Linked DNA regions of Homo sapiens. The protein of the gene in region 6 purifies or fractionates together with the protein of the main gene of each other region. This does not show direct contact. Each region holds a gene or a part of one and is shown on either strand. Other genes may lie near its edges.

Region 1 (3,500 bases), on a different chromosome or scaffold from region 6:
GTCTTTAAATCTGATTATCCAGCAGAGGAGCCTCACATTTACAGCTCAGATTAAACACATATTTCTTCTGATCATTGTTGCTTGAACCAAACCAGCAACGCCTTCTCAGTGTAACTGGAGAACTTTCTTATGCTTTTAAACATTTTCAGGGTGCTTTATCTAAGAAGATATTTTTAAAAAGTGTTTATTTTCTCTTTTAACAAACTCACTCCATGTTGCTATGTTCTTTAAAACTGCTCCCTCTTCTAATTTAATATATTTTTAAAGTTTTTGTTGAAATGTAAACTGCTCTCTGTATCTTTGTTTTGCTTTTAGTTATTAGCTTAGTATAGAAACTTATAAATAATCAGACAATTGCATATCTTCAGTTAGCACAGAATTCTGACAGAGGCTAGCTTTGCCAGCTCAGTTACATGCTGTGTGTCTCACTGGGGAGTGTTAGGGCATTCTCACATTGACATGGACCCAACGTGGTGTCCACTGGTAACTGTTCAATATAAGACCTGCTTACCGATTTCTAGTAATTTTGTTTTTGAATTTTTCTTTCAGGCTTACTGCACGATTAGGGTATGTAGCCTCAGGTCATTTTCACTCACATAGCAGGTTTGTATTTGAGATCACTTTGATCTCTATCTTCTAATTTGATCTTCAGAAAAACCTAATGAGGTTTTGTTTTATAGATAAATAAACTACCACCCAGAAATCTGAGGGACTTGTCCAAAGTCACATGCTTGGAGAGGCCAGGTCTTGAGCCCGAATTTCCAGTTCTCTCTTCCCACTATCATGTGCAGGTCATCACTCCATGAAAACTCCCAAAACACTGCTGTTTCTATAGTACCCAAATATGCCTTTCTCAGGATTTAAGAAAATATCAAAAATACATATAAGTTTTTGATATTTACTTAAATCCTGAGGAAGGCATAGCTGAGACAAGTCATGATCTGCCAGGTGAATAGAAATGGGGTTGGTTAAACTTGCACTATTCATACAACTTCTAGTGAGGCATAATGTGTATGTATACACATTAGAGAATATTTTAAGAACATCTGCAAAACAAGTGTTCAGTAACATGTATAACTGCTCTTTTTAACTTTTGAAGGCCTGCTTCAGTTATTTTTATGTGACTACTTATTCTTTGGCCTTGGATGCTTGCACTGTGAATTTAAAAATAATACAAGGACTTAGATAAAAGTCAATGGGCTGTGTTAGATTAGGCCTCGGTCATTTTACCTACAATTATGAAGGTCTTTCAGCATTTTTACCTATTCCTAGTTACAAAAACTTATTAACACAGAAAAAAAGCCATTACAAAATCTTTAATTTCAAAAGGCTTTGACCTAACTTTATGAAATATGTATTTAGAATTCGTCATTTTACAATTTGTTGTCTCTTGGTTCATGTTTTTCTTTTTTGTGTGTGTGATCTACATCTACTTAATAGTCTGATTATTTTCATTAAAAGATTTCCTGCTAAGGAGTCACTTTTAATAAACATTTACTTATATTTATTTTAGAGCCCATTTTTGAAGCTGTAGTTTGTATGTTGAACACTTCTAAAACCTCTTACTTATGAACAAGTATGAATTGACCTTATAGTATGTGTGGATCACTGTGATTGGCACTATATAGATGAGAGAAAGGAAGGGTGATTATTTGCTTGCTTTTGGAACTTTACTGGGCTTTACAAAATCTTTAGCATCAACTCTCATCAAATTCGTAAATTATATGACTATTTTAAGATGCTGTATTCTGATTCATTCTTAGTGTTTAAATTATCTCAGGTAGCAAATGGAGGTACTTCCAATTTTGAAATTTTCTGCAGATTTAAGTATCTCTAATTCCCAAAGAATATTTTCTATTTTAAATTCACTTTCACACTTCTCTAAGGTCTTTTCAAGTAGATCAGCATTTCTATCACCGACCTTAAGATGAGGAAATGGAGGAATAATGTTTTGTTTTGTTTTTCCAGGATGTGGATCTGTTGCTGACAGTGCCAGATTAGCAATCAGAAATCTTTCTTTTTCCCTAATTATTAATCACACTTCCATTGTTTGAAAAGTCAGGGCTAGCTCTTGCCCCTAAGCAGAAAAGGCAAAAGAGAGGATAAGTAGGAAAAAAGAAATGGGCATATTTTAGTATAAATTTAAATATATTTCTCTCTTCCTTAGGAGAGAGTTATGTATGTGGCTCCATAGAGCCCTTCAAGAAACTGGAGTACACCAAGAATGTGAACCCCAACTGGTCGGTGAACGTCAAGACCACCTCGGCTTCTCGGGCAGTGTCTTCACTGGCCACTGCCAAAGGAAGCCCTTCAGAGGTGCGAGAGAATAAGGATTTCATTCGGCCCAAGCTGGTCACCATCATCAGAAGTGGCGTGAAGCCACGGAAAGCTGTCAGGATTCTGCTGAACAAGAAAACGGCTCATTCCTTTGAGCAGGTCCTCACCGATATCACCGATGCCATCAAGCTGGACTCGGGAGTGGTGAAACGCCTGTACACGTTGGATGGGAAACAGGTAAGAGACATATTGTGATGTGACTTTGACTTTAAGGCAAGAACCAGGGAGTCGGAGGGTGTACGTGGCTAAAGCATACATTTTGCTCAAGTTGTTAAAGGGCCTGGGTCACTTGATCAACAAATATGTACTTGCTGGCCCTAGAACAGTCAGAAGTTTGAGTTGAGCAGGATTATTCATAGGAATAAAGTAAGAAAAAAATGCATATCTTTGAAGATTAAATAATTACTCAGTGATTTCTACTTGTTCATTTATTATTTGCTTAACATAATGATTCTTTTCTGTCATCTGTTTTCAGTTTTCTCATAGATCTTATAGCCTGAAGAATGAATGACTGAGGTGTGAAAGTAAACTCTGACCAGTAGGGAAAATTCTAACTTATTTCTTTGACCTAAATATTTTATGATTTTAAGTCTTTGTAGTGTTCGCTAGTGAGATTTACTTACATTTTATAGATTTTAAAATATGTATCTAAGAAATGACATATTTCCATCTGGATAGCTTTAAAGGCATATTTCTAGAATAGTACGCATCTTGTATTTTTCAGTGTTAAAATGAAAGGGAGGTTTTTCAGCTACAGAATGAACATCAGTTGACTTGGATGGGTGGTCATTTTAATGTGAGTTGGTCAGATGAACCCAAAGGAAGCATCACCTTTTATTGTCTTGGGTGGACTATTTTTGTACAGGTTTGACAGAACCTTGATGGTGAGTTGAATTAAAAAACATTGATTAGGGCCGGGCACGGTGGCTCACGCCTGTAATCCCAGCACTTTGGGAGGCCGAGGCAGGCGGATCACGAGGTCAGGAGATCGAGACCATCCTGGCTAACAGGGTGAAACCCCGTCTCTACTCAAAATAAAAAAAAAAAATTACCTGGGTGTGGTGGTGGGCGCCTGTAGTCCCAGCTACTCAGGGGGCTGAGGCAGGAGAATGGCGTGAACCCGGGAGGCGGAGCTTGCAGTGAGCCGAGATCGCACCACTGCA
Region 2 (3,500 bases), on a different chromosome or scaffold from region 6:
TCATTTTGGTGAGTTATTTGTCTTATAAACTCTGGGTGCTTCTGAGACACCAGTGCCTGTTTTTGGAATGATTTCATAAAACTTTCCAAGTTGAAGAGAGCCTGAGGGGAGGGTGAGGTTCAAATACGAGTTGTGAGGGTGGTAAGAGATGATGACAGCTACCATCTATTGAGTGTTTATCATCCGAAAGGCAGGGCTGACCACATGGCCTGCCACCCATGCAGTGCCACGGGGTCCACACTTGGTTTGATGCTGTGCTGTCACCATCTTGAAAATCTTAATTCTTTTTGAACTGGGGACCTTACATTTTCATTTTGCACTGGGTTTCACAAATTACGTAGCTGGTCCTGCTGAAAGACATTGTGTCTAGTGCTTTACAAATATTATGCCATTTAACCCTTGTAATGACCCAGTGAAATGAGCCATTTTTATTACTTTTATTTTACATATAAGAAAAATGAGGCTTCGTGAGTTTAAGCCACTTGGCTCAGTTCCCACAGCTATTTAGTGATAGAACCAGGATTCAAACCCATGTTTGCCTGCCTGCAAGTACTTGCCTATCAGGCTGTCTGAGTGAAGAATCCTGACTTAAAGAGAAGGAACTGAATAAGAGGTTGGGAGAGAGTGATTGGAATATAGGAACTGCTGAGCCTGAAAGCAGCTAATGTTTAAATGAGGCTGACAGTGGCAGCCACCAAACCTTCCTAGTGAGATCACTTTTGTTGCTCTTACTAGGGATTTAGTTACTACATGCATGATTGCTAATGCTCTGTTTTAGCAAACCTGTCACATACTTGATTTAAACAATTTAGAATGTTCAAGTTACCCAAGGCTGAGATTATGATGTTTCTCAGGAGCCTTCTGTTAACCGTTAGGAGCAATGTTTTTTTTCATTTGGTTAGTTATGAAGACATCTTGGTCTACAAGGACAAAGGCAGACAGGTTCAGAGTCTACAAAATAATGAAGCATATGGATAGGGCAAAGATGGACTGATCATTAGATCCTGAATTGCTAAAGCTCTGGGCTTCCTCTTGAAGCTTAAAAAATTGTTTCCATACAGATGATGAAATGTTATTTTAATTCAGTGAGTACTGATTTTAGGAAAGCTGTTGCTTCAAGATGGAATACAGGCTAAAATTGGTTCAGAAAAGATGGCAAATCTAGAAATCAGGAGAATATCTCTTGGGGTTCGGTACCACCGTGAGAAGAAACCTTGCCTCTTTCCCCAGACCTGCCTGTATGTTGGACATTTCTGCCATTTGTATTGTATTCCTATAAAATTCTCTGAAAATTACTTTCTGGGAATTGTCTGTGCTTTTGTAATTTCTATTTTATTTTATTTTATTTTATTTTATTTTTGAGATGGGTCTTGTTCTGACACCCAGACTAGAGTGCAGTTGCTCAATCATGGCTCACTGCAGGCTTAACCTTCCAGGCTCAAGTGATCCTCCCACCTCAGCCTCCAGAGTAGCTGGGAGTATCAGTGTGTGCCACCATGCCTGGCTAATTTTTTTCTTCTTTTTTTTTGGTAGAAACGGGATCTCAGTATGTTGCCCAGGCTGGTCTCCAACTCCTGGGTTTAAGGGACCCTCTTGCCTTGGCCTCCCAAAGTGCTGGGATTACAGGTGTGAGCCACTGTGCTCAGCCCCCTTTTGCAATTTAAAGAGCAAAATAATCTATAAATTTTAAAATGTATTTTATATATGTATAAACTGTATCTGGAAGGATGCTCAAGAAGTGGATAATTTTTGGGAAAGCAGCTTGGGGAAGTGGAAGTCAAGAGATGAAGGGAAGCATGTCTACACACTATACCTGTTGGTACTATTCAGATTTTTACCTCGTCACTATGTCTAGAAAATGGAAGAAATACAACTTGTAGGCACCATGTAAAACTGGACTAGAGGTAATTTTCAACCAAGTGTTCTTGGGGGAAAAAGGGAGCTTCAGTACTATATAGAAACTCAACACCACTCAAGGTCAGTGGAGGCGTTGGATGAAGAACAGGGGAAGTGGGAAGGCCCCATGGAAAGAGGCTTTAGGGGGAGAGGTTGGCAGGTGGTTTGCCCATGATAAACATCAAGATCTTGATAATGTTCTCCTTTCTTCTATCTCAGTTTAGCCATCTGGAAAATAAAACAATTTTTGCAATTTTCGCCATGATTATATCCTTTTAAAAAAGTGTATCATAAAAACTAAGTCTTTGTGAAAGTAACAACAGAAGTTCTGCTTGTTTAAAATGCAGAATTCCTATAAAGCCAAGTTATTTGTAAAATCATTTGGTGGTTATGCTAATACAGTTTTATATCTGGTTGGTTCTTCAAGTGAAACCACTGGTCCCAGACAGTGGTAGGTAGGGAGTTGGGGGAATATTCGACCTGCCTGGTGTCCAGATGGAAAGGCCATCTGGCTTCCATGTCTTACTGAGTGCTGAAAAGGAGTTGGCTGATCTCACAGACTGTGTGGTTTCCTGTTCCTCCCGCCTGGCCCGGAGAGTGATATGATTTCAATGCGATATTGAAGCTTTTGGTTTGATGTTCCACTTTGGAGTTAACTCCTAGGGTTGGCCCCAGGCCAGGTTCTGAAGGGGCACCCGGGTCCTCATTGGCTGAGAATGTTATTACTTATGGTCACATGACCTCCACAAGCTGAATAAATGTAGTGAGTTCTAACGGGAGACAGAATTGGGAAGTAAGTATAATTTTTCCAGACCCTTGTGGCACCTTTCAACATTCTCGCCCCTTTTGTGTTCCCCTCCTTTCTTAGACATCAAGTGTTCACTGTAATGTTCTCTTTCCAATTTCATCCCTTCAAATTTTGCTGTCAGGAAAGATTTGATAAGCTTTCACTAGAAATTTTAGTGTTAGTAAGATTTAACATGTTAACCCTAAATGGGCATTTATATTTAACAATAATTACTTCAGGTCAAAAGGGTGAATCTCCACTTGGAGAACCTAGGGCGATAGCCAGGTAGTAGTGGGCGAATATTTGGGGAATGGGAGAGGAACCCTCACTGCCCTCCATTATTTCATAATGTGGCTCTTATTCATAAGGCAGCCTTGTTTATGTGTTGCTAATTTGTCTATGATCTAGAGGATTTCCCTTGGCTTAGCAAAAAATCTTTGACGGATTATTTTACTGTCTCTGAAATTGTTCTCATGATAGTAACATTGGTTGGGAGGTGGTAGACATAGGCACAGTCCTGAAAGATGAGAGGGCAGTACAGAGTTTTATATTTGCCCTCCTTCTCGAATGATCCCTGAGTTACAGTGTTCATGGGAAACAGGGGTCTCTGATGTGACATTGCTTTTGCAGGAGTTATAAGATATAGCATCTAGATTAATAATTGAATTAATTACAGTGCTTGCAGCTAGAAGTAACTGAAAATGGATTCAGATCGGCTCATACAGTAAGTAAATTATCTCATGTTGCAAGAGGTTGTGAAATAGAGCCCCTGGCCGGGCGCGGTGGCTGACGCCTGTAATCCCAGCACTTTGGGGGG
Region 3 (4,105 bases), about 78 Mb from region 6:
GTTCTAATACTTGCCTTGGTCTCTCCTTTTGCCTTATGCCCCTCAGTCGAACTCTTTCTTCTGAGGAGTCAAGAATTGAGGTTGCTGCAGATCTGTAGGAATTCACTGCCTGTAACATACTTTGGGGCCGTGTCTCGGATATGGGCAGCTGCTAACATATTTTGGTGCCCTGTGACTCGAGTTAACTTCCACAGCTCACAAAGGCAGTAACATTTTCTAGGGAGTCACTAGAAGATATATGTAAAAAATCTCCTATATCTCCTAGTGGAAGATAGGGTTACTTCGTTAAGAATGTTTATTCAGGTCCACTGCAGCCTTCAATTCCAAGCCTTTGGTGATAAAGGCTATTTTCTCACCGTGGTAGGGAGAGGATGCCCATCCCAGAGAAATCTTTGTGGCCTGCTGCATCGAAGAGGCAGGTCAGCTTGCCCTTTCTGAAACTACCATTTCTCCAATGTTTTCCGCTCGAAATAATCAATATACCAATTAGGCATATTTTGGAATGGCACACCTTCACTCCTTCAACGTCTTGTCCTGGGTACTTACCGAGATGACCAAATTTGAGTAGGTGTACAGAGTCCTAAGTATATGGAGTTACTTCATTTGTCCCTCTGAAAGATTGCAAATCGGACTAGCAATTCCCAGGGGGAAAATTCTAAGCAGTCAAAAAAGGACTCACAACCCTATTGCCGAGGACTAAAAGTATCAGCCCAATACAAAACATAGAACTCAAATTAAAGGGGAAAAGACTATCATGAGAACAAACAGAAGAGGAATCGGGGCTCCCTTCCCGCTCTTTATTGCCCTTAACACACTGTCTACGCTCCTTGTGCTCTCTATCCCGTTTTTAAATGTCCCTACACTGGTAAAAGCTGTCGCCTCGCTTCATTTCACTACCGCTTCTCCCAGCGTTAGCAGCACCTCCAGGCTCACAGTGCACTTGGTAGGGAGGACAGGTATTTATCCACGCGGCCCAAAGCTGGGTTTCGGTCGCTGGATAACACCTATTATTGACCCTTTTGTAGAGATAGCGTTGCGTGTGTTTGTGTTGCGCGGACGCAGAAATCTGGGAAGGGCGCTGCACAGCGTTTTCCAGCGCTGGGGAGACGCCCCCGGCCCCTTAGTCGCACCTGCCTAGGTGTGCTCGCACGGTGGGACCAGGGTGGGCAACAGATTTCGCCCCGGGCAAGTTCGCACGCGGAGCTCCCAGCGCCGCGGGTCTCGGAGAAGACGCCTGCCTCCCCGCGCATTTCCGGTGACGTGCTGCCGCGCCGCCCAATCAGCGCCCGCAGCCCGCGGGCTTGGGATTCAAACTGCTGCTCCTCCGGCTGGCGGGGATCAGCGCTGGCGCGGCTGCGGCCGCTGCTGCCTACGCGCCATGGAGCATCGCATCGTGGGGCCCGGGCCGTACCGAGCTACCAGGCTGGTGAGTGAGTGTGCTGGGGCCTGGGCGGAGCACCCGGTGCCGCGAGCCCCCACTCAGCGCGCGGACAGAGTGCTTGTCAGTCTTCGCTTCCGCAGGCCAGCGGGGCTCGGGTGTGGAGCATTTCAGCTGGGACTACTGGGGCTGCCTTTTAGTGGACGAGCCTCAAAGAAAGGCTAACGGGGCCCAGAGCTCAGCCGGCCGGGGGTTAGTGCAGCTTTGTCCATGAGATGTTGACTGGGTTCTCGGCAGTAGATGGCGCCTCTCTGTTTAAAGACCCCAAGACCAGGCTGTTCCCTGCCTTTTGTCCTCTGGAATCTAACCGACCCGGTCGGTAACCTGAGGGGCCACCACGTACCCCGTAACGCTCAGCGTTCGCGGCAGTCCAGGCAGGGCGTGTCTCCTTCCTGAGTGACACCTGATGATACCTGACGGGGTATTCGAATAAACGGTGCCCAGAACAGAGGGGCATCGCGCTGGCCGCATTTCCGGCCCCTGGCGTTTCTGTTTCTGTCAGCACCGATCCAGATGAAGAGCTGGCCAGGACAGATGTTTTAGGAGAGTCTTTGCCGACTCTGAGTTCCTGTTTTTTTTTTTTTTTTTTTCTGGGAGAAAAGCTTTGGTATTGAGGTGTACTTGGTCTGCTTTGACTTGGAACAATAAAGGGTGACAGTTTGGTAATGTCTGTGGCAAGTTTTTAGAGGACTTTCTGTGGAAGTGTAATGGTAATTTGGGAGGACAGTAACTTGCTCCTTGGTCTGCCGACCTCTCTGGCCACATTTAACATGGGAATTACTCTCATAGTTCCATGCATTATAATGAATACACAGGAAAAGATGGGAACTAACATCCAAACTCTTACTCAGCTAGACTCATGGAAGAGGTGAGGATGCTGGGATACAGATAATGTAAATAGAGTTTCCTTTTCTTTCCAAAGCCAGCCACACACTATACCAGTAAGTCAAGCCAGAGCTGAGAAGGCCAGCTTCTGGAAGAGAAATCATAGTTGGGGCTGATGGGTCTTTACTTTTTAAATTTGGCTCATAGATCGCTTTGAGAATCTGATGAAGATTAAGGATCTTCTTCACAGAAAACTGCACATGGCACATACTCATGAAATTTTACATGATTTAAGGGGATGGATCGCTTGAGGTCAGGAGTTCGAGACCAGCCTGGCCAACACAGCAAAACCCCGTCTGTACTAAAAATACAAAAATTAGCTGGGCATGGTGGCATGCGCCTATAGTCTCAGCTACTCAGGAGGCTGAGGCAGGAGAATCTCTTGAACCTGGGAGGCAGAGGTTGCAGTGAGCTGAGATCGCGCCATTGCACTCCAGCCTGGGCAACGAGCGAAACTCCATCTCAAAAAAAAAAAAAAATAATAAGGAGATTGGGAGAGTCTGTGACATTGTTTTATTTGGCATAAAGACAAGCATTTTATTTGCTCATCCTTTGGATCAGTAATCTGGGCTAGACTCATGTCAATGGTTCTTTTGTGGAGGTCACTCATGTGCCACAAATAATGTGACTTGGCTATTACTGGATGATGGAAGATGGCTGCTTGACTTGGTCCTGGCTGTTACCTGGGCCAGATATCTCTAACAGGTTATCGGAGGCATCTTCACGTAGTGGTCTCATGGTTCCAACGTAGCTAAAAGGAAGTTTCAGCTTGTGACTTTTTCTTCAAATCTCATTGGTCAAAGCAAGTTAAACAGCTAAATCCAGATTCTAGAAATTCAACTCCACTTCTTGATGGGCAGGGTGGCAAAGCCACAGAGGTGCATGTGGAGAGGATGGGAAGAATCATTGCACTCATCTTTGCGAACACTCTATACAGTATAGACACCAGAATGATCTGGGGTCAAGAATATTGATAAGTCTAACTTTAGGGAGGAAAATAAGGCATTTGATCATTCCCTTCACCAATTTATTTACAGCACTTACACAAGGAAAACATAGCAAGGCTGTGGTTCTTGACGTGACTAGTCTTCATTCTTCCTGCATTAGACTAAAAAAAAAATACCTCATAATTGGAATTGTATTTTAGTCTCATATTCACAGAATTGTATGAGGTACTTCTTTTCATGGATGCAGAGGGTCCATATATAGATAGTGCTGGATTCTTGAGTCACATTAAAATATTATCAAAGGAATTTGTTTAATTAAAAAAAGGTGCTCTCTGCTCTCTAGAAGTCTTCAGTCCCTAACAAATAATATTCAGGCTAAATTTAGGTTGATTAAGTTAAGAAGATAAATGACATGGATAATTAATGAAACAAACACCTCAGTTTCACCAGAATTTCCCAGGTAATCAATTCAGTTCTCAACTTCATAGTGTTTGAGGAACATAATATTAAACTAAGATGTGGAAAACAGAAAACAATAGCCAATTTTTTTTTTCAAAAGTGAGTATTCCTGCTGTCAGTGATTGCAGCCAACATTGAAGATGCTTCTTTCCATTGTAAAGTCTGTAATTGTTTCCCCAGTGTAATTCAGCTGTGACTTAAAGCTTTTGCTAGGTAAATCATATATTTAATAGTTTGAGACTAGTCCTCTTTTTACTTGTTGGACCTAGTTGGCCTTTCCTCCCTCTATCTGCAGCATACAATTTCTCCCTTTTCCCATCATGCTCATTCTAAACTTTCTTCAGGGGAAGCTTGGTAAAAATCTATTGGGATACAA
Region 4 (3,500 bases), on a different chromosome or scaffold from region 6:
TAAAACATCCATTTTTCTTTAAAGCCTGATAAATAATTTTAGGACTTCTTTAGAATCTAATTCTTGCTATCTGAAAACAAGATTAACATAAACATGAAATTAAAGTGAAGCAAAATGAATGTGTTCTTAGTGAAACAATTACTTATTAGGTCTTATAATAACTTTCAGAGGTGGATATGCTGGGTCAGTGTTTCTGGAAATTAAGCATAACAACCACCTGGAGTGCTTGTAAAGATACAGATTTCCAGCCTCTAATCCATACTTCCTGAATCAGAACCTCCAAGAGAGGTCTGAGAATCTAGGGAGGTTTTTTTCGTGTTTTCTTTTTTTTTGAGACAGGGTCTCACTCTGTCACCCAGGCTGGATGGAGTGCAGTGGTGTGATCTTGGCTCACTGCAGCCTCAACCTCCCCATGCTCACTCAGGTGATTCTCCCGCCTCAGCCTCCCGAGTAGCTGGGACTACAGGCACACGCTACCACACCTGGCTGATTTTTGTATTTTTTTGTAGAGACGGGGTTTCACCATGTTGCCCAGGCTGGTCTTGAACTCCTGGGTTCAAGTGATCCACATACCTTGGTCCCCCAAAGTGCTGGGATTACAGGTGTGAGCCACCACACCTGGCCTGAGAATGTTTTTTTCCTTTCTTTTTTCCCTTTCTTTCAAAACCTTGCATGATTCTTACAAAAAACAATTTTAGATAATGCTGGTCTAGATGATGTTCTTTCTTTTGAAGGTTTCAAGTGGATTTCTGTAGGCAAAATATTTTAATCCAGCTATTCATATTTCTTTGCCTTATTTCTAAAACACTTCAGGCCTGAGGACTTGCGCCGTGAGTTTGGTCGATATGGCCCTATAGTAGACGTTTACATTCCACTTGACTTCTACACTCGCCGCCCAAGAGGATTTGCTTATGTTCAATATCCTTTATTTTATTGTGTGCATGTGAATATACTGTATATGCGTGCTTATACATATATGTATTCAGTAGCATATGTTATGAGATTAATATTGCCTAATTAAATGTGTTTATTTCTTTATCTCAGAAGATCTAAAGCAGTCCACAGTAGCTGGCAAGCACCCCCCAGTTTGAACCAACCTGTTAGCTAGAATCCAAGCATAAACCCAGCAGGCGAGACAAAAGGCACCTAAAGTTCAAGCATCAAGGAGTAAAGAGGGAGGGTGGACACAGATATAAAGACCTGGAAGAGGGGAAGTCTTTATCAAGCAAAAGACAAAGCCAACACCAGGTTGAGACTTCGGCTTTCCTACATTTACTCAGAGTTCCAGAGTCAAAGCCAAGTCTGATTTTGTTGGTTCTGCGTCTCTTATAAAGTCCATCTTGCAAGCCTTAAAGAGTAAAGGTCAAGGTTCAAGATCAAGTGACATTGAGGTAATTGCCAGTCTCGTTTTATATTGTGTATCTTGAGCTTTTTCTGTTTGTTATTTTTTTAATTAAACCAGTGAACAACCTCCTAAAAAAAGTTACTTATTTTTATATAGCTAATTTCCATTATAGCTAGGTTTAATATTATATAATTTATATACATAAGGAAGTTTAGTGGGATATTACAAACCAGTATATGTAATTCCAGATATTTACAGATTGCTTTTATGTTTCTTTTATATTTATATCCCAAGTAGTAAAAACATAAATGTTTGGCTGGGTGCGGTGGCTCATGCCTGTAATCCCAGCACTTTGGGAGGCTGAGGCGGGTGGATCACCTCAGGTCAGGAGTTTGAGACCAGCCTGACCAACATGGTGAAACCCCGTGTCTACTAAAAATACAAAAATTAGCCGGGTGTGGTGCCGGGCACCTGTAGTCCCAGCTACTTGGAAGGCTGAGGCGGGAGAATCTCTTGAACCTGGGCTTACAGTGAGCTGAGATCGCGCCATTGCACTCCAGCCTGGGTGACAAGAGGGAAACTCCATCTCAAAAACAGAAAAAAACATAAACATTTAAAGTGGTAGGTTCAAAAGTAGATACCATTTTTAAAGCACTAAATCCGGTTTTGTTTTAACTCACTTGTATATGTGCAGTTTTGTTTATAAGTAATCTCTCTTAAATGTCAAATTTAAAATTAAGCCTTTTAATGAAAGAGTAATTTTAATTTCAGAATAAAGGCTTCTGCATGCTGATATTCAGTGAAAAATCTGATGGATCCTTTATCTGAAAGAAGGGAGTGAGTCCTAAACAGTTTGTAATTTTATAATGCTAGCCAAATTTGGACTTTTTTTTTGTTTTTCTTGTTTTCAAATTATACATGCATACTGCAGCCACACTATTGTAGACACTAAAAGTACAGTTACATGTTTGTTTTGTTCTTTTTATTTTTAGACTCACTCTTCTAAACATAATGGGTCATTTGTTTTCATGAGAAAAAGTGAAAGTTTTTTTTCTGATTATTCATATTATATTGAAGATGTGAGCTTAATAACTTGAACTTGATTTTCCTATTAATTTCATTTCACATGTAAATAATGCTTTTAAAATATGTTTACTTGATATCTCATGTTCAAAGTGTCCTTAACAGCTAGTCATATTTGAAGATGTTCGAGATGCTGAAGATGCTCTTTATAACCTCAATAGAAAGTGGGTATGTGGCCGTCAGATTGAAATACAGTTTGCACAAGGTGATCGCAAAAGTAAGTGTGACTGAATGCTAGATTTTATTTATTCAGCAGAATGAGTTTCAGTGATGACTGATTTTTTAATTTAAAATTCTTTCAGTAAATGATTGCTAGTTGAGTGGTTGTTACTGTGGTGTTCAGGTAACGAATTATGTCATAAGTCTTGTTCTTTATGTTCCAGCACCAGGCCAAATGAAATCAAAAGAACGTCATCCTTGTTCTCCAAGTGATCACAGGAGATCAAGAAGCCCCAGCCAAAGAAGAACTCGAAGTAGAAGTTCTTCATGGGGAAGAAATAGGAGGCGGTCAGACAGCCTTAAAGAGTGAGTATAAGAGGACTGAAAATTTCATTTTCTACTTTTTCTGGGAAATAGATATATATTTTTTTGATAGGGTCTCATTGTTTCCCAGGCTGGAGTGCAGTAGTGTGCGATCATGGCCCACTGTAGACTTGACCTCCTAGACTCAAGCAATTTTCTCACCTCAGCCTCCCAAGTAGCGGGTACTACAGGTGTGCACCACCACACTGGGCTAATTTTTTTAATTTTTTGTAGAGATTGGAGGTCTCGCTATGTTGCCCAGGCTGGTCTTAAATTCCTGGGCTCAAGTGTTCCTCCCACCTCAGGCTCCCAAAGTGCTAGGATTACAGGTGTGAGCCACTGCACCCAGCCTGGAAAATATTTTAAAGTTTTTATAAACAGTCCACCTTAGTCATTTTGCTTAATGTACAAACATAATCAATTTTTGTTAAAAGATAACACTCTTCTCTATTTATCATATATTGTTATTTAACTTGGGTTTATGGGATTAATTCTTCTGTTAAAGTTACAGACTTAACTTTATCTTTTTACATGAGAAGATAATATATAG
Region 5 (2,617 bases), on a different chromosome or scaffold from region 6:
TCCCAGAACGCCTCGGACAAGCTGAAGAAGTTCACAGAATGGGTCTTCAACACCATAGACATGAGCTAGGGAAGGCTGAGGAGGACAGGAGAAGGGCCCAGACACTCCCTCCAGTGAGTGTCCTGCAGCCCTTATTCCCTCCATAGAAAGCATCCTCAGAGCACCTTCCCTGGCTTCCTACTCTGCCCCCTTTCGGGGAGTGCACAACACAATAGTTGCAGATCAACAATCATCACCTGCCTTTTGTAGAAAAGAAAAACAAAAAAAGTAAATAAAAATTTTAAACAGTAAAATAAAAGTTTAACTGCTAAAATGTGAATGTCTTTATTTTTTTGCACAATATCTTTATCTGTTATGTATTTAAGAAGAAACTGGGCCTTGGACCAGGGCGCCCCCTGGCCCATCCGCCTCTATTCCCATCAGCTTTCTTATCAACTTCAGGTAACCCAAGCTTTCCCTTGTTATTCTAACAAATATCATTATTCCTAGAAAAAGAATGTTTTTATAACTTGTTTGGGGAGTAGAGAGGGATATTTCCTTACCTTCTTCCCTAAAATGCCTGGAGAGGGAGTTGCTTTGAGAAAATGCCTACCTCCCTTGAATGACTCGTGCATGAGCTAGTGCTGTCTGTACCTGTCCTCCAGAGATCAGCAGGACCGGAGTTAAATATTTAACAGCAAGTCTGTAAACCAGAGCAGCTCTGACAGTGCCTGCAGGCCACACCCCTTCTCAGTCCTGCATTGTGAGGTCATTTCCTGCTTCTCCCTTTCCCCAGGAAGATGGTCCCACTTGTGCTGCAAGACTCTTTTTTGTTTGGCTTAATTGAGCCCCACTAAATTGGAATCAATCTCTCTTACAGCTTCCTGGCTCCAAACATTAATTGATTTCAGAATTCCCCCAAACTAAAACCTTATCTGTCTGCATTTTGAATGCATTTTGGTCAAAAGTATACGTTTTAAAGATTTTTAAAGATAAAAATGTGGCACAACTGGTTTTTTTAGCTTGCTGAAAATGACCATATCTCTAAATTAATCTTTCTCTCCAGAGCAAGACTTCACCAGTATTTGTAACTAGGAGAAGCTAACAGTGAATGTTTAATTGTGAATTTTAATCATTGCTTGTTAGGAATAATGACTGTGATACTAGAATGGGCTTTTGAAACCTGCATGTCCCAGTGTGAAATTTCAGCACGGCATTTTCTGCATCCTTTCATGGCCATCCAAAGGATTCCGCTGCAGAAATTATTGATGTGCTATTTTTGCTGTCTTGTGATGCAGGCTGCTTTGGGCCCCTGGGTCACTCTTCCAAGGCTGCTGTAGAGCACAGAGACATGGGGCTGGCCAGTGTTGACTGACCTGAGGAGACCCCTTTGTTTGTTGCCTTCATAACTGTCACTAAACCGACCCCTCTGCCCTTTCAGTGGCAACTCTGGTCTAAGGGAACATTCAGCACTCTAGCGGCATCTGATTGGAAGTTCCCTCACCCAAGTAATCTCAATTCCTTCCTCTCTCCATCCCTGAAAGAAACAGGATGGATTTTCCTCTCTTCTCCCTGCTACATTCACTACCAGATTTTTATGCTACAGTTTCATTCTTGATTGTGATTTCTCCATGGAATTTTTTTTTTCTGGTGACATTTCTATCATGGAAATAGGAAGATTTCGGAGTGCTTTGTGAAGATTTCAATTGTCTGTCTCTTTCTCTCTTTGACTTGTATGAAGGAGATTGTACATTGCCTGATATCTCTTTGTAAATGAGAAATATTGCTAACATCCAAGCATTCTGAAGTCTTGCTTATCCTTCTGAGTTTAGTTCTCATTTTGTTTTACATTTTGTTTGGGGACTTGGGGCAAGCTATTTATTAGAGTTTTGCAACAGAGTTCTTGTTTGAAGCCTCTAAAGACTACCTGTAAAATTCAAAGAATAAAATTCATTTTAAACGCTCTTTTAAAACACTTTGGTATTATTGCTTGAGGTTTGCTTATTTGAAAGACCACCCAATAACTCATTGACCCTCCTTGCATCCGAATTTTTTCATCAAGCTTTGTTAACACTAATGATGATTCTTGAAAATTTCTGTCCTTCTCAGAATGTTAATAAACTTTTTTACTCTGTCCACATGTCGATAGAGAATTACTATTTTGCCTTCTCTGCTTATGATTTAATATTTGCAGAGCACTTCATAATTAGCTTCCCCTTCATTATCCACGCATGGATTTTTCATAACATTGTTATTCTCTGAGACCAGCACATTTTTGGGCTGCATCTCCCAGCTCTCAATGTCAGATGTTGTGTGCCCAGGGAATACAAATGCCTGTTAATATTAGGCTGTGCAAAATATAATTAGAAAAGTTAATCTACTGAAAAAAAAATCAGTGCATTCCAAAGTCAAACCGAACCAATTTTTTTTTAATCTACCACGTCACTGTTCCTCTCCAGCGGCGCAGCTAATTGAGTGCTGACAGTAGAGTTTCTTCCTTTTATTTGGTTCAACAGTTCTACAGATTCCAGAGTTCTTGGACTAGCATAAGAATGGATGCCACAAAATATTCCAATTAACAAGCTAAAAAGGTCTGTTTAGACCATGATTCCTACATGGTTCGGAGGGCTTATACGTT
Region 6 (4,234 bases):
GATCACAGCTCTTTCCAGCTAAGCCTAAACACAGCTTCAGAAATTATGAACTTGGCAGTCCAGATATGAAATAAAATAGAGTTGGCAATCAAGTTGAAACTTATTTGCTACCCTTAAACTGGTTCATGCTCTGTTGTTTCTAACTGGAATACCAGCACCACTTAGAAAACAGCTGCTCAAGTGAGAGAGAGGGATGCCCAAATGATTATTTCCATCAAGATCAGCCCAGTATTTTATCTTCCAGTCAGAAGTGAAAAGAGGTACCCTTCTCCTAAACTACAGAAATAGTAATAAGAGAACAAGGAAGAACAGTGGTTGTAGGCAAGACTTTCTGCTTTAGACCTGAGTACATAGGATTTTATGTCCTCCCACAGCCTAAACATCTGATATATTATTGTTTTCCAATAGATACAGTGTTTGTTTTCTTATCAAATGGGAAGATAAAGAAATGGTCAGGGTAATTCCAATACATTTCAACTCTACAGACGTCGTAAACAACAACTCCATGACTGTTCAACTAAGTTTTTAGCCTCATCTGATGCAAAGTCCATGGATACAGTTAACCAAGATTCTTTCTCGTGGTCAACTTCTGATAGAAGCAAACTAACTGTATCAGATAACAGGCTTCAAGCCCACACAATTACCTGAGGGGCCTTGCTCAAGGGAAAAGGGGAGGTTAAGCCAGTGTCTTGATTTTGTTCTATCTATTCCCGGAAATGAGCAGCAAGCTGACAGCTTACCAGAGAATGTGTGTAGCATTAGCTAGTCAAGAGAACAAATCATCAAGAAATCTAATTATTAATCCAATTTGCTAAGAGTTTTGACAAATCATTTAATACTCCTTGGCCTCAGTTTACCCATATGTAAAGTGGGCAGAATAATCTTAACCTGTCACAGGAACAATATAACATATTAAAATGTACAAAATGTACCATCTGACCTATAAAAATCAGGAGTCCACACAGACTACCATTTCTCGTTCCCGTTTGTGAATCTTCAAGGCCTCAGAATGTCAGAAGTAATGAAATCAATAAGATGAAGAAGGCAATAGGGTCCATCTCTCTGGCTGAATACCATCCTCCCTCACCTGCACACTAAGAAAAGCCCAAGAGGGCTCTTCCTTCTGTGACCTTGGGGGCAGATCACTCTACAAAAAAGAGGAATTATCTCTACCCCACTCACACCTTAGAAGGAGGGCACAAGGAAGAGCAAAGAGATAAACCTGGATGTACCTGGAGTTCTCTGGAAGAAAGGTGCAAGAGAAGTCAATCATCATTACAGTTAACTATCATTTTCATGCATAATTATTACCACCCTGAACAAAATTCTAGCTTCCGGGGAGCTCTCTTCAGCTGCTTCCCCTATATTCTTACGGGAGAAGCTAAAGCTTATATCACTTCTGCTCTTGGTTTCTTAACTCTGCTGCCCTCAAAGATCAACCAGAGAGGGAACCTAAGTGCAGGATTTTACCCTAGAGACCCCAGGCCTCAGGCTAACCAGCTATGAGGAGCAGGGAATGAAGCAAACTCTCCAGCTTTTCATGAGGCATTTGGACAAACAGCAAACTCCCAGCCACCTCTAGGATCAAGTCAAGACAGTGAATTTGTGTTTTTCTGCATTTTAATTGTTGGGATGTGGCCACACACAGTGGTAATTGGAACAATGCAACTACCACCACGCAACTGATACTCTCAGCCTGAGTTTCCTAAAACAGGCCAGGCTGCGAGGGGGAACAGAACGGAAGCCATAAGGAATCAAACCAGGACACAAAAGAAGGCAAACCAGCTCCGCGAGGGGCCTCCTCTTTCTCAAGCAGGCATTGAAAAAAGTGTAAGAAGCCCTCTCTTGCCGCCTTCCTTCCCCTTCCATTTTGTGTATCTGAAGGGTAGAGACAGCCCTGAATATTCACTAAACAAGTTAAAACTTCTCAGTTTAACAACTGGCACGGGGCTCAGCCCTTCACAGAGCAGCAGGCCGCTAGGCCCTCTCAGCAACCCCACCAGACCTAACTCTCAGTCCAGGCTTTCCCTCCACCAGCAGCCCCCAAAAATAAAGATCAGACCCCCACCCCATCTCCTATTGGATGGCAGTAACCCCTGACACTCCTGTTTCAGGGATGCTGAGGTTGTGCTGTACCAAGACAAGGTAGGATCAGGTCAGGCCAACAGGGAGGAGAGTCACAAACCCTTTGGGGACCTTCCCCTCAGGTCCCAGCCCCACACCTCCTGGGGAGACTGAAGAAAAACATGAGGAAGGCAGGGAGCTGCATGAACAGGTAGGTGGAGATCTGCCTGCTCTTCTTCCATATGGTTCTGGTGGGGAAAGGGGTGACAAGTGGGGAACACCCCTCCCCCCACCCCCATGAAGAAGCAAAAGGCTAGGCCCCTCCAATCTTCAACCTCTCCCTCTGTTGCCCTGCCTGTCCCCGCGGGGTGGGGCATGGGGCGTCCGCTGGTCCCCGGGGCGGGGGGGGGGGTGCGCCAGGGCTCGCTCAGGGGGGCTGTCGTTCGCCTCTTCCCACTAGGTTCCATCATCTGGCCGCGGGAAGCGAACTCAGGACGCAGGGGATGGGGAGGGTCTGGGACTTAGCACTCCGCCACCCCCTCCCCCACCGGGTCCCGTGCTCTCCCCGCAGAGGCGGCCAGCGAGGCCCGGCCGCGCGGGCGGTCGGGCTGGGGGAGGGGAAAGAGGGAAGGAGGGAGGGACGGTTGAGGTGCCCGCCCCGAGGCCCCAGCGCCACCTGCCCTCCACCACCTACCGCGGTTCCTCCAGCTCCCAGGGCCGCGGCCGGAGCAGCTCTGAGCGCTCGGTTCGCCCCACGGTGCCCTTAAAAGGCGCTGGCGCGAACCAACGAGTCCCTGAGGAGAGTAGGGGGACAGCTCCGGCTCGCAGAATCCCCCCAAGCCACCCATGGAGGGCGCAGCTCCGTGTCGTGTCTCTCTCAAAGTGTCTCTCGGACAGCGCTGTTGGGAACGAGCCTGGCGCTTTGATTTAGGGATGGGGGTGGTTTCCTCACTAACGAGTCACCCCCTCCAAAATATCGCAGAAAGTGGACGGCCCCAGTTGGAGGCACATCTTGAAACCCGCGGGGGAGGCCATGTCGGAAGAAGGTAAACAAAGGCATCGCCCCTGCCCTCCCTCCCTCCAACGGCCCAACTGCAGCCTCCCACTCGGTTCGGGCCGCGTCACGCAATTAGCCACAGTGCCCCTCACCTGCTCTGCTGCCCCGCCCTCCACGACCACCTCTTCGAAGGAATCCCCCTTCCCCCAGCAAAGGACCCGTCCGCGGCGTGAAGGCTGCTGGGAAGTGTGGTCCAAGCGCGGATTAGGGCCTGCTCGGAGTCCCAGGAGCCCCTCTTGCAGCTGCCGGATCGGCCTGAACCTTAAAAACCCAGGACTTATAATGGTTGCGGGGACGTTTCCACTTGGTTCTGTAATTTGCCCTCACCCAGAACACTTTGTAAAGCTCAGGATAGCCCAGGGCTGTTCACTCCCTCTCTTCTCTCTCCGCCCCCTCCCCCCCAGCAGGATGAGGTAATGGGATTGTGATTATGACATCATAGGCGGTTCAGTTGCTTGCGTTTGCCTGGGGGGAGGTGCGGGGAGGTGGGGAGAAGTGCGGTGGTTAGACTTTCCTTAAACAGAAAGGGAAGGAGGAAACAGGCAGATGGGGAAAAGATGTTGACGGCGCTATATTTCCACTTCAGGAAGACAAAACCACCTTTTATTAAGTCTCCACCACTACCACCACCTCCCACATGAGCCAAAATTTAAGTCTTTTTTAAAGAGATTGAATGTAGACGTTAGTGTGTGAAGAGGTTGGGTTGATGGTTTCTGGCTCTTATGTAAATTCGAGTCTCAGCTAGCATCACAGATGGTTTAGGGAGACAAGCAAAAAAGTGGATAAAGGAGAGGCTTTAAACAATGCGTTCGTGTTGTGATCTCTTTGTAATACAAAGTTTTCTATTTCTTTTTTTTAATTGATTGGAAAGTAGCAGTAATGCAAGTAATCTTCACTATTACACTTAGCAGCAAGTCCTCTGAAAGACATCTGTTTTCTGTAAATATTTTGTGCCTTACTCAAGACTGGGACAGGTAAATAGCTGTGATCAGCTGGAAAGTAGAGCCAGTGGCGGGGGTCGTCCTCACTGAGCCAGGGAGGGGAGGAGGCAGGAGCCACCAAGTCTACAAACTGAAAAAGAGTAGAGGAAAAATGAGGTACAGTACTAACTGA
Region 7 (2,399 bases), on a different chromosome or scaffold from region 6:
GCCAGCACGCACAAGTCGTAGGCACGGCCCGCCGCCAGGTCATTCACCAGGAAGGTCTGACTGGTGGACGGGATCATCCTGTAGGAGGGGGCGGGTTCAGGGCGGGGTTAGTCCCCCCGAACCACGCCCCTTCGCTTTATGCCCCGCCCATGGTGAACAGTGGGGACTAAACCCTGCTATCGAAGTCTCAGCCGCTACTGAGACAACAGCAGCAATTCAAGCCCCGCCTCCATCAACATATTCCCACCCTTTCACACCCCTCATCTGTATGCCCCGCCCTCAGACCCACCTCCTGGCTGTGTCCCATCACCCACTGGGACAATATATCTATCATTCGTATTACCTCCTCTGCATATCCCGGCCCCTGCAGGGGAGAAGTGCTATGGCTTTTAAGCCCTGCCCTCAAGGGACATGCTCCCTAGCTATGTCTCACTCTTGCTAGGACAACTGCCATTCAAGGTCCTTCATCTAGGCATTTCTACCCCAAAACTGGGCCAACGCTACTGGCCACCTCCCCTTTTCTGCATGCCCCATCCCCCACTCAGGTGGACACTAAGGTCAGCTCACAGCGCCTGTCATATTCCTACTGGAACAATGGATGCTCTTCTAGTTCCTCTTTTATACATATTCCTGCCTTTCAGGGAAAACCATGATGCAGGTCGCTCCCCCTTATCTGCATGCAGCACCTTTGGGTAAAACATCTAGCTTTGGCCGGCTGCAGTGGCTCACGCCTGTAATCCCAACACTTTGGAAGGCTAAGAAGGGTGGATCACCTGAGGTTAGGAGTTCAAGACTGGCCTGGCCAACATGGTAACCCTGTCTCTATTAAAAATACAAAAATTAGCCAGGCGTGGTGGCAGGCACCTGTAATCCTAGCTACTCGGGAGGCTGAGGCAGGAAAATCGCTTGAACCCGGGAGGTGGAGGTTGCAGTGAGCCGAGACCACATCATTGCACTCTAGCTTGGGCTACAAGACCGCAAGACCGAGACTCTGTCTCAAAAAACAAACAAACCAAAAAAAAAAAAAAAAAAAAAAAAAAAAACCATCTAGCTTTGTCTATGTCCTGGAACAGTTTCCAAGTCCCTTAACTACATGTTCCCTGACATTGCTACAGGCCATTCCCCAACCAAATGAAATGTGGCTTCCAGGCACACCCCACAATGGCCCACTAAGGATGGTTCCCCTACTGTGTATAGGCCACATCCAGACTACAGGCCCTGCTCCTTGTCCAGATATTAAAGGCAACCACCTCATATGTTCATGTGCCACCAGAAGTCACCAAATCACGCTACCAGGTAAGTTTCTTCCGTAAAGGGGTCAAACGTAGCCAAGCACACACCATATTCCTTTCTTGCTGTAGGCCCCTCCCCTCGAATGAAGACTAGTGTAGAGAAGTGGTTAAGATGACAAAGGCTGGGGGCCAGATTGCCCGGGTTTGAGTCTCTCCTCTGCCACTTGCTTGCTCTGTGACCTCAGGCAAGTTTCTCTTTTGTTTCATTTTGTTTTGTTTGAGACAGACTCTCGCTGTGTCACCCAGGCTGGAGTACAATGACGCGATCTCGGCTCACTGCAATCTCTGCCTTCCGGGTTCAAGTGATTCTCCTGCCTCAGCCTCCCGGACAGCTGAGATTACAGGCACCCACCACCACACCTGGCTAATTTTTGTATTTTTAGTAGAGATGGGGTTTCGCCACGTTGGCCAAGCTGGTCTCAAACTTCTGACCTCAGGTGATCCATCCGCCTCGATCTCCCAAAGTGCTGGGATTACAGTCATGAACCACCACGCCCGGCGAACTTCGCCAAGTTTCTTAACCTCCCTGTGTCTCATTTTCCCCAAATGGGGATGATAATAATTCCTACATCATAGAGATGGTGTGAGGAATGAATGAGTTAACACAGCCAGGACCTGGCACTTAATGATATCATCATTAGCTTGCATCACACCTCGTGTTGGCCAGTAACCCTTGCTGTGGCTCACACTATCCAGCCCATTGCATTCCTCCCATCTATAAGATCTACCCCTCTGGAGGGCCATTCCTGCTAGGCCTTGGCCCTCTTCTGTTGAGCACATCGTTTCCACACTGTGGGCCATGTCCAGCCTCAGCTAAACCTGGACTGCCCGTTCCACATTGATTGGCATGGCCAGGATGCAACCTCACAAGCTCTCTTCTCCAGCAAAGACTCTTGGTGGGTCCCGGGAGACAAGGACTGCCCCTTCCTCTTCGTGGGACCATGCAGAACAAGCTCCACCCCCTCTGACAGGCCACATCCCCACCTCCGAAGGCCTGCTTATCTCTCCGATGCTTCCGCTTCCCCTCCAGCAGAGCCACCTTCTGGCCCTGAAGCTCCACCTCTGTCATCCCACCTCCAGGAGGTTCTCCCACTACCAAGAGCCACC

What was found.
Region 1: the proteins of FAM53C (region 6) and DCLK1 purify together in Homo sapiens (affinity purification with mass spectrometry, with the first as the bait; one large-scale study listed by BioGRID). This does not show direct contact.
Region 2: the proteins of FAM53C (region 6) and CREB3L2 purify together in Homo sapiens (co-immunoprecipitation; one large-scale study listed by IntAct). This does not show direct contact.
Region 3: the proteins of FAM53C (region 6) and DEPDC1B purify together in Homo sapiens (affinity purification with mass spectrometry, with the first as the bait; one large-scale study listed by BioGRID). This does not show direct contact.
Region 4: the proteins of FAM53C (region 6) and SRSF12 purify together in Homo sapiens (affinity purification with mass spectrometry, with the first as the bait; one large-scale study listed by BioGRID). This does not show direct contact.
Region 5: the proteins of FAM53C (region 6) and SIPA1L1 purify together in Homo sapiens (affinity purification with mass spectrometry, with the first as the bait; one large-scale study listed by BioGRID). This does not show direct contact.
Region 7: the proteins of FAM53C (region 6) and LRFN1 purify together in Homo sapiens (affinity purification with mass spectrometry, with the first as the bait; one large-scale study listed by BioGRID). This does not show direct contact.

What each region holds. Positions count from the first base shown.
Region 1 is NC_000013.11:36,110,883-36,114,382, reverse strand, and holds part of DCLK1 (serine/threonine-protein kinase DCLK1), read left to right. Parts: intron 1-2,167; coding exon 2,168-2,514; intron 2,515-3,500.
Region 2 is NC_000007.14:137,995,587-137,999,086, reverse strand, and holds part of CREB3L2 (cyclic AMP-responsive element-binding protein 3-like protein 2), read left to right. Parts: intron 1-3,500. UniProt on the Homo sapiens protein: Transcription factor involved in unfolded protein response (UPR).
Region 3 is NC_000005.10:60,697,367-60,701,471, reverse strand, and holds the start of DEPDC1B (DEP domain-containing protein 1B), read left to right. Parts: upstream 1-1,305; 5' UTR 1,306-1,378; coding exon 1,379-1,426; intron 1,427-4,105.
Region 4 is NC_000006.12:89,104,572-89,108,071, reverse strand, and holds part of SRSF12 (serine/arginine-rich splicing factor 12), read left to right. Parts: intron 1-813; coding exon 814-918; intron 919-1,044; exon of another isoform or gene 1,045-1,391; intron 1,392-2,116; exon of another isoform or gene 2,117-2,182; intron 2,183-2,521; exon of another isoform or gene 2,522-2,541; coding exon 2,542-2,645; intron 2,646-2,811; coding exon 2,812-2,953; intron 2,954-3,500. UniProt on the Homo sapiens protein: Splicing factor that seems to antagonize SR proteins in pre-mRNA splicing regulation.
Region 5 is NC_000014.9:71,739,093-71,741,709, forward strand, and holds the end of SIPA1L1 (signal-induced proliferation-associated 1-like protein 1), read left to right. Parts: coding exon 1-69; 3' UTR 70-2,117; downstream 2,118-2,617.
Region 6 is NC_000005.10:138,336,832-138,341,065, reverse strand, and holds the start of FAM53C (protein FAM53C), read right to left. Parts: upstream 2,801-4,234; 5' UTR 2,759-2,800; exon of another isoform or gene 2,711-2,758; intron 1-2,710. Other genes in the region: CDC25C (M-phase inducer phosphatase 3), read left to right, coding at 2,911-3,110.
Region 7 is NC_000019.10:39,308,465-39,310,863, forward strand, and holds part of LRFN1 (leucine-rich repeat and fibronectin type III domain-containing protein 1 precursor), read right to left. Parts: intron 79-2,399; coding exon 1-78. UniProt on the Homo sapiens protein: Promotes neurite outgrowth in hippocampal neurons. Involved in the regulation and maintenance of excitatory synapses. Induces the clustering of excitatory postsynaptic proteins, including DLG4, DLGAP1, GRIA1 and GRIN1.